Linked DNA regions of Homo sapiens: region 1 is linked to region 2. A link means that fine-mapping ties the variant in region 2 to the expression of a gene that starts in the linked region. Tissue or cell type: whole blood. Region 2 holds a variant in brackets; the other region holds the start of a gene. All regions are shown on one strand. Distances are between the middles of the regions.

Region 1 (8,208 bases), 570 kb before region 2:
TTCTGGTATTCTGTGACATTTCTTCTTAGCTCACTCGTACACTGTTCCTCCCCTGCTTTCTCTATTGGTGGATTCTACAATATTGCTACCCACTTTGTTGCCATGTTACTTTGCACTTGATGTGTGATCTATAAATGTATAAGCGCCATCTCTCTAACTAGATTGTAGGTACCTTGCAAACTGGAATCCCTAATAATGCTCAAAATGATAAACCAGTGCATAAGCATTGGGGAATTCTAATTATGGCTATGACTTATTGACAATCTGCTAGGCAACAGGTGTTTCAAACACATTATCTCTGCCCTTCACAATAAACTTGCCAAATTAATATTATAACTTACCCTTAACTGATGATTTAAGTATGGGTTATAATCATATGGAATTGAGTTTTGTTGGATTCTAGAGCCCTTGAATTTTTTAGTACCTATCTTTGTTTTTCATCTCCATGTTTAAAAACCTATTTCCTGCAGTTCCTAAATGTTTTTGTGGGCAAATGGATGACTGTCTCACATGGGCTGTGTGAACACTGGCTGTGGCTCAGTTCCAGCTACGTGATGGATACTCACCACCCAGGACTCCTGTTTTGGCCAGGCAGCTCAGCAATAGGAGCAGCCGCATGCTTCTGGAAGCCATCTTCCTCCTACCCTGAGGATGTAGCTAGTGCAAGGATCTCAGAGACCTTACTAGCGCTTCTTTGAAACTCCTGGGTTCTCCTTGATCTGCAAATCTGAACACATTTGCACAGGTGAGAAGGACCCAGGAATCTAGATGCCAACTAATACATATGGAGGAAAATAATACAATATTTTCCTGGCTAAATCCAGACTTTATAATGAAGGGAATCTCAAGTTAGATGTACAGGTTAGAAAATTTTAAGAGATTTTGTTCTTACCTGCAAGACCTCCTGGGCCAGTGCCAGAGATCTAACTATAGCAGGCTGAACAGTTTCATAGTCTGCATGGAGGCAATTTGTAAACCACCGAGCACTCGCCCCTGTTAGCTTCAGGAGGGCCAGCAGAGGGCGCCCAAGGCAAGCTTCCTCACAGGTAAGACGGATATGGGCATTCTGTTGTCAAGAAAATCCAATAGAATGGCTCCGACATTGAATTTTTAAATGTTAAAATTAAACGTGAGCACAGTGTCCAATACCCACATTTTACAGATGAGAAAACCTGAGGTCAGTAAGTATGAAGTCATTTGTTCATGGACACCAGCTATAAGCAGATCTGACTCCATCAGCACTCTTTCCTTTACACTTAGTTGACATCATTTTTAAAAATAAAGAACATGGCTTTATCTTTTCCCCATTAGCAAACAACACATGAGCTATTAGAAAATCAATGCAAAACTAGAAAATAAGAAGTAAATCCCATCTCCAGGAGATAATTTGGTGAGTAGCCTACAGATATCTTTCTATGCACCTCTCTCTGTGTACAATTTTATAAAAATAAGATCATATAGTCCTATAGCCTGGTTTTGTTTCTCAGAAACAGATTAATTGTAATACATTGTCTTGCACTCACATAACTTTCATGCATTTTTTATTTTTTCTTTAGTATAAATTCTCATATATAGGGTTGTGGCATCACACAACATGCACATTGTCATTTTAATACCCTTTGTTAAAATGTATGGGCTGTGATATTTACCTCATTAATAGGGCACTAAAAGGATTGGTTCCCTAAGCTCCCAGAGAATGCTTAATTTTGTCAAGTTTTTGGCTAATTTTGGTATATTAAAGAAGAACCTTAGTGTTTTAAAATATTTTATAATTACTAATGAAGTTGAACATCTTTTTATATAATGATTTGCTTTTAGTATTTGGTGAATTTTCATTTTACAGTTTTGCACATTTTTCTATTTCATTGTTTGTGAGATCTTTTTTGTATGTTTATTTGTGAGATCTTTTTTGTATGTTTATTGCCTTTCACGTGTTACTAATAGTATTTCTCAGTTTGTATTTTTCTCTTACTTATTATAATTTTTGCCATTCTGAAATTTTCAAAAATATTGTTATTTTTTATGTTTTTAAAAATAATTTTTAAATTTATATCAAAAGACTGGCCATTACTGTCACATAAGGTTAAAATATTTATCACTGTTCTATTTTCATCTGTCTGGGCTTTGTTTTAACATAAGTATGAAACTGAGTTCTGGATTTCCCTCCCAAATAATTCTTAAAATGAGTTAATTCATTGAATTCACATTTAATCATACTTTATGATTAAAAAATCTGAATATACAATCTAACTCTCAAATAATGGATTGCTTAAAGAGAATAATGTAAATGATGACTTTTCTGGAAAATCAATTCTGGGGTCCATCTGAACACTTTAAGGCAACATTAACTGAGAATGAGACAAAGCTTGGAGAGTGTGGATGTGACCTTCCCCACCCCTTACTTCTTTTTAAATCATTGCGTGAACCTTGCACTTTGCTAAACTTTCCTTCCAAAAGTAATAGTGTATTTTCAATGTCCTCAAACCCCTTTAAAACGCAAACAGAATTTCTCTGTCAAGGTGACCATCTGGGGGAAGGGAGAGGCAGCATCTTTTTTACTAATCTGTGAATAATTTTTAGTGAACTGATATTCATTGAATGTCTGCATGTCATGTTCATAAGTAAGCTGCACTGGGCCGGGTGTGGTGGCTCATGGCTGAAATCCCAGCACTTTGAGAGGCTGAGGCAGGTGGATCACCTGAGGTCAGGAGTTCAAGACCAGCCTGGCCAACATGGCACAACCCTGTCTCTATTAAAAAATACAAAAATTAGCTGGGCGTGGTGGCAAGTGCCTGTAATCACAGCTACTCAGGAGGCTGAGGCAGGAGAATCACTTGAACCTGGGAGGCAGAAGTTGCAGTGAGCCAAGATTGCACCATTGCTCTCCAGCCTGGGAGACAGAGCAAGACTCCATAAAAAAACAAAAACAAAAACAAAAACAGAAACAAAAACAAAAAACCTGCACTGTAGATCTCATGAATGCATGTTACAAATGAAGACACTGACACTTATGATTGAGTAACTTTTCTAAAGTTTCCCAGCTACCAGACTGCAGAGCCAAGATTTAACCCAACAGCTTGACACCAAAGCCAATGCTCTTTGCAGTGAAGGAAGAAAAGAAGGTAAATAATTTAAATCAAACAACACAGCAACAGAAAGCCTGACAAGCCTCACTAGAAATACAATTTGTCATTTCTGGCCTGGCTAATAGCTGACAGAGGAAAACAGATGTTTAAAGAAAGTCCCCCATCATCAACCGCGAGGAGGATTACCTGTTTGGCAACCAAGACTCTAAGGGCCCCTGCCTTCTTCAGTGTCTCCAGTGGTCCCAGTCAACGTTTCTGGAGCTTTTATATCTTCTTGCCTCAGGAATTAATAATCTTTACTTTAGTCACAAAGCGATAATATTATTTGAGAAAAACAATCCATCCATAAAAGTCTTATCTACAGTGAAAAAAATGAATCATATAAGAGACGGCTTCAGAATGTACGTAAGGTGTGCTTTGACTAGCCAGGAAAAGAACCTCTCCCTGTGTGCAAACAGAATCTTTTCTTCACATCACGTTATTAAAACTGACAACATCCTGTAATCTGTTATAAGCCCATCTTCCTCTCCCCTTATGTTACTTTTTCATGGCTGTCTTTTTATGCCTTGGTATGGTGGATTTCCTTTATTTCTCTTTTATTTCTAGAAGGATTTTCTGTCAGGGTCAGGAATAGGTTATGACCCATGCGGTGAGACTTGAGACCCACACACAGATTTTCCTTCCTAAAGCACCGACTCCACTCCTTCAACATGCGTGAGTTTCCTCAGAGATCTACTATTTGAGCTTCTCCCGCAGAACATGGATGATCATGTCAAAATAGCTTACATCAACAGAGTGTGTTACAATAACGGGTTTTCAGTGAAGTCATCAAATAAGATGCCAACAAAATCCTTGTGAGCAGCATAGGACACATATCCCCATTACACACTCAAGAAACCCAACCTTAAGAGAGATTAGAAACCTTCCGAGGTTCACAACACTGGTCAGCAGTGGACCTGGACACTGAACCTTGTCCTTCTGACTCCAAATATAGGTGTTTGCCAAAATACAGTTCTACTGAAAAATAGGCTATTTGAAAAGAGTAACAAGATTTTCTTTTCCAGTATAGATGGCAAAGGGTTAGGTTGTAGGTGCCAGAGATGACTCAACTTTAAACTACAGATTTAAGTCTGTAAAGGACCTTTATGTCTGGAAACTTTAAGTCTGGAAGGGACCATAGTAGTTATCAAATCTTACTCTTTTGTTCTACTGGTGAGGAAATTGAGGCCTAGAGAAACATTGTGACTAGTTTAATGCACAGACAGTTGTGGGTGAAGCTGATATCAGAAGCCAGCTTCCTTGCTCCCAGCTCACTGTTGTTTGGAAAATGCTACTCAACCTTTGTTATTAGATTTTTGCATCAGTTGTGTAAATTCATGGTAGGACATGAGAAAGTAATGCTTTCATGGTTCACAAAGAACATTTTAAAGAATCTCTCCCATCAGAATGTTTGACACAAACCTCTTTCTCTTTAGGCAGCTGGATGGGAATCATCATTGCTTCATGGCACAATGGCGTACAAAGATGTTAACTCCAAGCCTTTCAATTTCAGAAGTCCTGGTCCAGATGTAAGACAGAAAAGTTTTAACAAAATGGGTGATTAGATAGATCTCCTGTGTTTCCAGCAGCCATCCCAACCCTTAGTCTGCTATCCCCATGCCATTATCCAGATTTAAAGACTTGAGATGAGAGAGAAGAGAGTAGAACAGATTAGAAAACAAGATGTTCATAGGACTTTTAAGAGGTCTCTTACTGAACCCTCACATTGACTAGCTCCAAATTAAGGCATTGATAGGACTCACATAAACCTTTGAGATGTAAGAATGTAAAGGACCAGAAAATTGTCTGAATCAAAAAGGTCCACTGAATAGTAAGTTTATTTAAAAAAAAAAAGTCTACATATAAACACCTCATACATGAAATGGTCAAAGTGAGAATCCTAAAAGCCCCAAATCAGCAATGATCACCTTCAAAGTGACAAGGATGGGGATGGCACCATAATGGAGAGATAAAGTGGAAGCCAGGCAGCTTTCGAATAGTAGCTTTATTTATTTATTTATTATTTTTAATTTCAATAGGTTTTTGGGGAACAGGTGGTGTTTGGTTACATGATAAGTTCTTTAGCGGTGATTTCTGAGATTTTGGGGCACCCATCATCCAAGCGGTGTATACTATACCCAACGTGTAGCCTTTTATCTCCTGCCACCCCCCACCCTTTCGCCCGAGTCCCCAAAGTCCAGTGGATCGTTCTTGTGCCTTTGCATCCTCATAACTCCCACATATGACTGAAAACATCAGTGTTTGGTTTTCCATTCCTGAGTTACTTCACTTAGAATAATAGTCTCCAATTCCATCCAGGTTGCTGTGAATGCCATTATTTCATTCCTTTTTATGGCTCGGTAGTATGGAACACTAGCTTTAAAGTGCAAAGGAAAACAACTTTCAACCTGGAATTCTGTACCCAGCTAACCAACCATTAAGGGTGAGTATGACAAAAAGATATGTTAAAGTTATGAGAACGTAGTAAGATTGCTATCCATAGACTCATTGAAATTACTGCTTAAGCGTGTCCTTTGTCAAAAAATAAAATAATCCCAGAAGATGTGTTACAATAAAGAAATGTGTTGACTGTATTAGTTATAATAATGTTTAAAATAAAATTAATAGTAACTTTATTTCATTTTTAATATAAGTAGGAACAAAAATACCAGACAATAACAAACGAGATTAAAGAGAGTTAGGAATGAAGTTAAAATATTCTAAGATCTGATCATGATTAAATTGAGACTTCATTAGAAAATATTAATTTAAGTATATGTATTATCAGAGTACTTTTTTGATAATGCAAACTTGATGTTGCTGCACTTATGATGAAATATTACAATTGAGCCCCACATTCACCAAGACTTTCAGTATAGCAGGAAAATCTTTCTGAGTCGTACACCTTCATATCACTCTTGCCTCCAGCACTAATACTCCATCCAGTCAAATCTGTGCCCATCAACACCACATGTTGGTACTCCCTGGAACAACCCCATTCAAGGTCACACCTCCATGCCTTTTTTCATGTCATTCCTCTGCTTGCAATGCCCTTTTTCTCATTCCTTGTTTGGGTGTGTTTATTCATCTTTTAATTAGTTCATTCAATAAATATTGAATGTGATTAAGTGCAAGAATCTGGGTATATGGGTGTAGGTGTGGTAGGGAAGGGGACAGGAGGTGATAAAAAGTTGAAGAACAGCCATCTGGTTTCTGTCCTGCAGGATCTTGCCACAATGACAGCTTGGTTTGGTTTACAGCATTGCTTTGGAGGCTTTTCCTTATTCTACTCTCTGACAGCAGAGATGCCTTCCATTGTGCTCACATACCCCAGGCTCGGCACTTAAAGTCTCTATTTTCTGGTTGGCTACCTATATTTCACTAAGCTACTTCAGGTCAGGGATCACATCTCCTTCCTCTCTCTCACCTTATGTTCAGCAATTTTTAGTAGCGAAACTAACCAGCAATCCAAAGAAGAGTAATTGCTTCAAAATCTGCCTCTTTTCTTCTTAGGTATTTCCATCTAGAGGTTCTAGGGAACAAGCAAGCTCACTCATATCTTTCTTTTTCCCACAGAGGAAAACTTCACTTTTTTTTTTTCTCTTTTGAGATGAGTCTGGCTCTGTTGCCCAGGCTGGAGTACAGTGGTGTGATCTCAGCTCTATGCAGCCTCCATCTCCCAGGTTCAAGTGATTCTCCTGCCTCAGCATCCCAAATGACTGGGATTATAGGTGCCCATCACCAAGCCCAGCTAATTTTTGTACTTTTAGCAAAGATGGGGTTTCACCATATTGGTCAGGCTGGTATGGAACTCCTGACCTCAGGCGATCCACCCGCCTGGGCTTCCCAAAGTGCTGGGATTACAGGCATGAACCACTGCACCCAGCCCAGGAAAACTTCACTGAACATATTTTTGGAGAAGACATTCACTTCTTTGTCAGGGAGAAAAGCCTTATTTCCTCTCTTGGAAGAATTCATGCTCTAAGCCCACTTGAAACAATTAAACTTCATCTATGTGGTGATTTAACTTGGCTTCCTAAAAGACTCCAAATGGAAACCTGTGCATTAGTACATCCCTATAGGTAGATAGTACATTTCTCAAAAGTGGCATGTGATTAAACATGCTTAGATAAAAGTGAATATTCTGATAAAAAATTAAAATGTGATCTCTCTCCATAAGTCCACAGATATTCAGTAAGCTCTCATCAGTTTGTGACATGCTGGTACAGCTGTCTAACAGAATTCCCTAAGATAATGGATGTATTCTAATCTGTGGTTTCAGTGAGGTAGTCACTAGCCACATATGGCTATCAAGCACTCAAAATACGATGACTAAGAATGTGGAATTGAATTGTGAGCTTCATTTAATTCCAATTAGTTAAACTTAAGTTTAAACAGCTATGTGTGGCTAGTGGCTACCATATTGTACAGCACAAACCAAGAAGATGGGGGCGAATATTTTTGTGGAAACAAGTTGATGTGGAAGAAAAGATGAATCGTTCCTGTTTGCAGGGAAGCTTAGAGACAGAGGGAAACTCGTGGAAGTAAGTTCTGAGTACTGAAGGAATTGTGGGGAGTTTGGGGGAAAGCTATAGAACTTGCATTTGAGCCAAATGTAATTAGGTCACCAAGCAGGAGTGTCTCAGCTGACACCTAGGGTACATTTTAGAAAGAAATCTTTGTCCTTCTCTGCGATGTGATAGACTGAGTCTGGTGTTCTTTTGTCACATCTGCAGCACATTTTTCGTTCTCTTCTTTCCCTAGTTGAAGCTTGGATGCGATTCCTTTCCCTTCCTCTTCAAATGACTGATGAACTTCATCCTGAGTCGAATAGTGGAGCTTCTCAGTATTTCTTCATTTGAGGTCGAGGGTAAATTGCCTATAGTTTCAGTCTGACAGCTACTCACTTAGGACCCATTTTAACTAATGAACAGTTTCTGTTTTACTAGTAGTTGATAACTGTCAGAAGTTTTTTGAAAGGGTCGAAAGAAGAACCCCAGCCAGATGGGCAGCAGTGTGGAAAATATAGATTGAAATGGCGTTAGAAAGAGGTCAAAGAAGGTGTATTTTGGGGGAATGTAAA
Region 2 (8,437 bases):
AAAAATGCTGACTTTTACAGCCTGTGTATACAACTACCTCTACAGAAAATTTTAAGATATATATTAGTTATTTATATTCACACAATAACTTTGCAAATAGTCCTAGTGTACAAAGCTTATTCCTATATCTTGCTGTGTTTTTAAACAAACATATATACATATATGCTGTGATAGCTGATGTTGAGTGTCAACCTGATTGGATTGAAGGATGCAAAGTATTGTTCCTGGGCATATCTGTGAGGGTGTTGCCAAAGGAGATTAACATTTAAGTCAGTGGATTGGGAGAGGCAGACCCTCCTTCTATCTGGGTGGGCACCATCTAATCAGCTGTCAGCACAGCTAGAATAAAGCAGGCAGAAGAAGATGGAAGAACAGACTTGCTGAGTCTTCTGGCTTTCATCTTTCTCCTGTGCTGGAAGCATCCTGGTCTCGAACATCAGACTCCAAATTCTTCAGCTTTTAGACTCTTGGACTTACACCAGTGATTTTTCAGGGGCTCTCGGGCCTTTGGCCACAGACTGAAGACTGCATTGTTTACTTCCCAACTTTCGAGGTTTTGGGACTCAGACTGATGCACCACTGGCTTCCTTGCTCCTCAACGTGCAGATGGCCTATCATGGGAATTTATCTTGTAATCATGTGAGTTGATTCTCTTTAATAAACCCCCTTTTATATGTACATCTATTCTATCAGTTCTGTCCCTCTAGAGAACCCTGACTAATACACATGCATACACACATGTGGTCATGCAGACATGTATACATGCATGCACACATATGTGACCACATGAACATGCATACACATATGTGATCTTTGCCATTGTGGATGGCTAGGATGATTTTTCTCAGGAAAGGTATCTGTGTTATTAGAAAAATAGCCCTGGTTCTCATCCTAAAGTCATAAAAATCAGGAGGTAACTCAGTAAAAGGAGACACACACACACACACAATGTTATATGTATAAGTGATTTAATATTTTATATATATAATCAAATCCTTGAAATTGCCCTTTGTATTAATCAGGGTTCTTTATAGAAACAGAATCAAGAGTATGTGTGTGCGTGTGCGCGCATGTGTGTGTGTGTGTGTATATATATACACATATATATTTAATACGTGTGTGTGTGTGTATATATATATATATAGACAGAGAGAGAGGGAAAGAAGGAGAGAGAGGGAGTTTATTATAAGAAATTGGCTCATGTGATTATGGGGGCTGAAAGTCTCACAATCTGCCATCTGCAGCTGGAGACCCAGGAAAGGCAGTGATGTAGTTGAGAGAACCAAAGTATCGATGGTATAAGACCCAGTCAAGAACAGCACAGGGGGCTGATGTGTCAGCTCAAGCAGTTAGGCAGAGGGTGAAGTCACCCTTCCTGTGCTTTCTGTTCTATTCGGGTCTCAATGAATCGGATAATGCCCATTCACATGGTGGAGGGCCACCTGCTTTACTCAGTCTGCTGATTCAAACGCTAATCTCATACAGAAACAGCCTCACAGCCATAACCAGGACCCATGTTTAGTCTGGGCACCTCATGTCTAAGTGAATTTGACACAAAAATTATCCATCATACCCAGAGTTCTTAATCAAAGTTTCAATGACTGAGGCCAGTCCTGGGCCGCTAATGTTCATCCAATATTGCGTCTAGTTTTACCATCCCTTCCGTTTGCCAGAAATAGAAACAGAAAATGTTCTACATGTTTGCACCACCAAATAATGAATAAGCAATCAAATGCCATTTTGATTATTGACCTTCTAGCTTTTACAAAACACAAAACTTGCACAAATAAAGATACTATTGGAAGCCAAGGAACCTAGAGACACATGTAAATTCTCTTTATCTCTGCTCGATGCGTAAAGTATTCCTACTTAAGAGTAAATTTCCTCTTGTTTCAGTGAAAGATATTTTTAACTGATATTTTTACCTTCAGCAAACACATAAACGGTGAAAGTTATCCCAAACATTGCCATTTTCAATTTCCAAAGGAGCTTATGCTAATTTCAGAGGCATCTCTATGGTTTATATGTATATTTAATATATAAGGCAGGTCCTACTATCTCTATTTTACAGAAGAAGAAACTGAAGTTGGAAAGATCAACAAGCTTACCTGAAGTCACAGGGCGGGAGAGTAAAGGAGCAGAATTTTCAACCTAAGTTTATATGATTCTAAAATTTTCCACTACCATGCTACTAAAAGAAATTACTCAACTAGTTCTTCCTGTTCAGGTAAGTCAGTTCAGACTTTGCTAATTCTGAATAAAGGGGACAGAAGTTATGATGCTGTAACTATTTGACATAGACTGTGTTAGATTAGAGATGAGAGGCAAAAATCTGACCCTAGTATATTTGCTTTCATTGATTCCAATGTCATCTTTAGGTTTTTGTATATTTCTTTCTGATTTTAACATATGATCCTTTATTTTCTTCTTACTTTCCTCCCTTCCTCCTCTCTCTGTCAAATTGTTTTCCTCTTCCTCCTCTTTTAAAAATTCTCAAAATTTGACTATAAATTGCTTTTTCTTCTTTGCTCCTTTTCACAACTCTTTCATTGCCACAAGGCATTCAGGTAGAAAAAAAGGCCAAGGTAGTCTGCAGTGTGCTAGCTATTTACCCAATTGACCCACCATATCTTTTACATAAGCAAATAAATTAACAAGTTATGTAAATAATTTATATTCAAATATTCAGAAATGTCTTAGACATGTTTAACATGCTACCAGTAAACTCCTTTTAGGAGGAGACCACATGCAGCTTTAGAATAGAAAATAGAAGAAAGGAAAAAAATAAACAAATGAAGGTTTTTCTCTGCAGTCTTTATGCAAGCAACGACTTATTTCTTAAACTCTCCCCTTTGTGGCTATCACTCAAAGAAAATAAAGAAGAAAAGCTACTGGCTTTCTAGTTTAAATCACAGTCTCATTATTCTGTAGGTGAATGGGGAGGGGGATTGGAATCGTAGGTCCGAGTGGGCAGTAACTTGAAGTCAATGGAGATATTTACAAAACAGAAGCACAATCACGATCCAGCAGTTCTGGAGCTGCTAACTTTTTCTGCCTTTTTCTAAATGTCCAATAATAAGGTTCTAATGGAGACTGAAGATCCATCACCTGCTCCACATCTCCAGGGGGCCCATGTGTGCATCGCAGTGCAGATCATACATGCTTCTTTCCCCTCCCATGGCAAGGGGAATACTGAATGATGACAGCTCACATGTGTAACCCAAGGGCTTTGCTTGGGTTTGCAAGGACTAGTGCACAATACATTCTTTGACTGTTATAATAACATTAAGTCAATGCACGAATTATAATCCCTATTTCACAAGTACAAAAACACATTCAAAGAAATTAACTTCCTTGCTCACCAAACAGTTATTGACAAAAATTACAATATTTATGTTTCTTTTGAAAAATATTATAAAGATTCTCAAATTGTCTAACCAATCATATTATCCGTATTTGTCTCTTCTCAAGCTGCTAATAAAGACATACCCAAGACTGGGACATTTATAAAGGAAAAAGGTTGAATTGACTCACAGTTCGGCATGGCTGTGGAGGCCTCAGGACACTTACAATCATGGTAGAAGGGGAAGCAAATATGTCCTTCTTCACATGGCGGCAGCAAAGAGAGGTGGGAAAAAGGAGGGAAAAGCCCCTTATAAAACCATCAGATCTCATGAAAACTCACTTACTATCAGGAGAACAGCATGGAGGTAACTGCTCCCATGATAAAATCACCTTCCACCAGGTCCCTCCCATGTCAGGTGGGGATTATGGGAACTACAGCTCAAGATGAGATTTGGGTGGAGACGTAGCCAAACATATCGTTATCTTGATAAGATATTGCTTTGGATTGAATTGTGTCCCTGCAAAAATCTTATGTATAAAAGTTCTGATCCCTGATGTGACTGTTTTTGAAGACAGGCAGGGCCTTTAGTAGGCACTTAAGGTCAAATTAGGTCATACGGGTGGGACCTCAGTCTACTAGGACTGGTGGCTTTATACTGAAAGAAAGAGACAGATGTCTCTCCCCTCGACCTCACATGTATAAAGGTCACATAAGGAAAAAGCAGCCCAAGCCGGTAAGAGGCCCCAACAGACGCCAAACCCTTCCAGCTTCATGATCTTGGACTTCACTGCCCCCAAAACTGTAAGAGAATGAAATTCTGCTGCTTATGCCATCCAGTCTGTGGCATTTAGTTACGCCAGCCTGCACTGGCTAATGCAGATATTCAGAATCAAATGAGTCATCCCAAGCAATTTCTCAGTATATACAGCACAGATTTCACCTTCTAAACTCACCCTTGTCTTCGCCTTTTTTTTTTTTTTTTGCGACGGAGTCTCACTCTATCGCCCAGGCTGGAGTGCAGTGGCGCGATCTCGGCTCACTGCAAGCTCCGCCTCTCGGGTTCACGCCATTCTCCTGCCTGAGCGTCCCGAGTAGCTGGGACTACAGGCGCCCGCCACCACGCCTGACTAGTTTTTTTTTTTTAATATTTATATTTTTAGTAGAGATGGGGTTTCACCGTGTTAGCCAGGATGGTCTCAATCTGCTGACCTCGTGATCCGCCCGCCTCGGCCTCCCAAAGTGCTGGGACTACAGGCATGAGCCACCACGCCTGGCCAGTTTTTCTTAATTATTAAATAATCTTTCATTGATTTAAGAAATATTTTCTTATGGTTCCTATTCAGGCCCAGGCATTGTTTTTTTGTGCTGCAGACAATGTGTTAATAAAAGCTGTCCAG[C/G]CTTGTTAGTACATCATGATATTTATATCTGACAAATCCTCTACTTAGATATGTATCACCTCCATAATTTTTTGGAACACATAAATTTTTTGAACCAAATGGAATAAAAAGCTAGATATATACGTATAATGAATATATTTGAAACTTTGTACTTTGCTTTACAATTTGCAAAAGAACATCATATACAGTGTTGTATTTGAGTCTCCCTTAAGCCCTATTAAGAAGAAATTTTTCTATTTCTGCTGTTCAGTGAAGAAAATGAGCAAAAAAGGTGCAGCAACTTCCCAATATCCCATATTTACAAACATAAAGGAGTGGGACTTTAATGTAGACTCTTGGTGTCCACGTTTGTGCTCTTTATGCTTCATGACACCAGGTAAAGTGCAATGAGCACAGCAAATGTGCCCCCTCAGGAGCCAGCTAAGACCTTCCGGGGGCTTCTCCTGGAAGTACAGAGTCTGCGACCCCCATCCTAAATACACAAGCATTGGCATCACTGTCTCACAGTAAAACAAAACAAAACAAAACAAAAAAACAAAAAAAAACAAAGAAAAAAACAAATACAATCTGTTCAGCAGAGTAATTGTACATAACACAAAAGAACTTCTGGGAAAAACACGGAACGCATATTGAAGTCAGAGGCTCAGTCATGTGAAAATAAAAGGTCTTGTTGGGTGCCTAAGTCTTGTCTTTGCTAACAGCTGTTTTCGTGCAATACCAGTAAACCCAGCCAAAGGCATTCTAGTGAGCAACACAGGAAGACTCCTATACACTTCAATTTTCCAGCAATCCATAAAATTGAAACATAAAAATAGGATTCTATTTCCCTTGTTCATTCTATATCTTACCAGTACTTATATTTGCATATGTGTAGAAACTCAAGGTTTACAAAGCATATCCACGGTCTTTATTGTATTTGATGCTCCACAAAATGTTGCAAGGGACTCAGACAAAGTCTTGTTTGTACTATGTTACAGGTGAGAATGCTGACATGTAGAGGGGCAAGTACTTACCTGATCACGTTGTCTTAGTATGATGAAGCCTCACTTAAACCCATGATCTCATGTCTACCCTTAAACTGATGCACTGAAATACAGTCAGGTAAAATAAAGAGTTAGGGGCACATTTTAAAATACATTTAAGGTGCATCAAAGATTTAAACCAATCACTTGTAACATCTCTATTTGTCAAACTCATTGGTGATCATTAGCATCTAGAGAGACCCAGGACAATCGCAAGATTCTAAATAATTTTCAAACCATAGTAGAGGATACTTTGTTTACTGTTATTTATGTATTAAATATCTTTTAATATACTATAGCTTTATAAGAACAGATAATCCATTTTTGGAATTTGTGTTTTAATTGGCCAAAGAGTTAAATCCATTTTTTCTAGATCCTCTGGATAATTAGGAATCGGTAGTAAAAAGCAATTGCACTTTTCCAATAAAATAATATGCTCAGTTGTTCAAACCCACATTCTTGATAAAAACAACTAGAAATTCTGCATAAGATAGAAGAAAAAGAAGATTTTGGAGCAACAAAGAGCATACAAGATGGTAAGGAATTACAAGACCAAAATCTAAGTGATGTCTTGATCTCAGAAAAGAAAGCTAAATGTTGAATTCCATTTGGCCCTTGGAGAATTCATGAAAGCAGTGAATTTGAGCTTCAGTTTTTCAGTCTCTGTGGAGTGATATGGAAGAAGGAAAAAATCTCAAGTCCCCAGCAACATGCATGTGATAATAGAAGACTTTCCCCCTATGAAACAAGACCTCCAAAGAGCTATAATTTCACAATAAGCATAAACCAAAAGTAAACCCACACTACCTCACTCCTTCTTCCATGTGTCGGCAAGGAAGTGTTCGTTGGTGCTAAACAAAGCATGGGGAAAATGCTGCTGTTGCATAAATTACAATCTCAAAAACTCAAGCTATAAATTTAGTTTAAAACAGTTCACAATACCTAATAGAAACAAATGTGCAGTTCTTCCTCATCCTGAAAGAATCTCCACAATAATATTCCAAGGAAAATAATGCACTCACAGCGTATGTATGTATCACCTATATGATGAATATAGCTGATAGATAAGTACATATGTATCATATATATATATACATATAACCATTACAGAGAACTAGAAGAAATAGTGGAGAAAGAAACAGTTCTACAAAGACCCTAGATTTAAAAATAATCAGAGAAAAATGTTGTAAAACAACTCTTCTCATAACGTCCAAAGCTAGAACACACTTGAAACAATCTCAGCAAAAGAAAGCTGTCAAATATGCAGCCATAAAAAAGGATGAGTTCATGTCCTTTGTAGGGACATAGATGAAGCTGGAAACCATCATTCTCAGCAAACTATCGCAAGGACAGAAAACCAAACACGGCATGTTCTTACTCATAGGTGGGTACTGAACAATGAGAACACTTGGACACAGAAAGGGGAACATCACACACCACGAGCTGTCGTTGGGTAGGGGGAGGGGGGAGGGATACCATTAGGAGATATACCTAATGTAAATGACAAGTTAATGGGTGCAGCACGACAACATGGCACATGTATACATATGTAACAAATCTGCACGTTGTGCACATGTACCCTAGAACTTAAAGTATAATAATAATAATAATAACAATAATAATAAAAGAAAGCTGTTAAAAATGACCAGCATAGAATCTCTCTTCCCCACTGTCAGACAACATTTCAGTGGTCCCTGTAACTATTGCTCTGGTCCTGAATAAAATCTTTCTTGCCATGCTTGAAAAAAAAAAAAACAGAATTGCAAAATATGTCTCTGACAAAGGACTAATATCAAGAATCTACAAGGACCTCAAAGAATTCAAGAAGAGAAAAAGAAACAACCCCATTAAAAACTGGGCAAAGGACATGAACAGACATTTTTCAAAAAAAAAAAAAATGCAAGCAGCCAACAAACACATGAAAAAATGCTCAGAATCACTAATCATTAAAGAAATGCTCATTAAAACCACAATGAGATATCATCTTATATCAGTCAGAATGGCTGTTATTAAAAAGTTGAAAAAAGAAAAAAACAGAGGTTGACTTGGATGCAGAGCAAAGAGAGAACGCTTATACACTATTGGTGGGAATATAAATTAGTTCAAGCTCTATGGAAAACAGTATGAAGATATCTCAAAGAACTGAAAACAGAACTACCCTTTGACCCAGAAATATTCATAACTGGACACCTACCCAAAGGAAAACAAATCATTATAGGACAATACCATGACAATAGCAAAGTCACGGAACCAACCTAAGTCTAACCTATGGGTCCATCAATAATTGATTGGATAAAGAAAATGTGATATATATACACATCATGTAATACTACACCACCATAAAAAAGAATGAAATCATGTCCTTTGAAGCAACATGGATGGAGGTGTAGAACATTATTCTAAGTGAATTAACTCAGAAACAGAAAATAAAATACTGCATATTCTCACCTACAAGTGGAAGCTAAACAATTGGTACACATGGACATAAAGATGGAAATAATAGACACTGAGGTTTCCCAAAGGGGAGAGGATGTGAGTGTTGAAAAACTACCTATTAGGTACAATATTCATTATTTGGGTAATGGGTGAACTAGAAGCCCAATCCCCACCAGTATGCAATATACCCATTTAACAAACATTCACATGGACCCCTTGAATCTAAAATAAAATAA

What was found. PIP is the estimated chance that this variant, and not a neighbour inherited with it, causes the effect.
Region 1: REG4 starts here. The variant in region 2 is fine-mapped to the expression of REG4 in whole blood (TOPMed, PIP above 0.99).

Annotation. Positions count from the first base shown.
Region 1 is chr1:119,808,137-119,816,344 of GRCh38, forward strand. It overlaps REG4 (regenerating family member 4), which reads right to left and starts at 3,324. Exons shown (of 6, transcript NM_032044.4): 1 at 3,273-3,324; 2 at 567-727. The coding sequence starts at 633.
Region 2 is chr1:120,374,723-120,383,159 of GRCh38, forward strand. No RefSeq gene overlaps it. Among named protein-coding and RNA genes, the nearest start is that of NBPF8, 36 kb to the right of the region's middle. The variant C/G (reference allele first, on the strand shown) is at 4,744.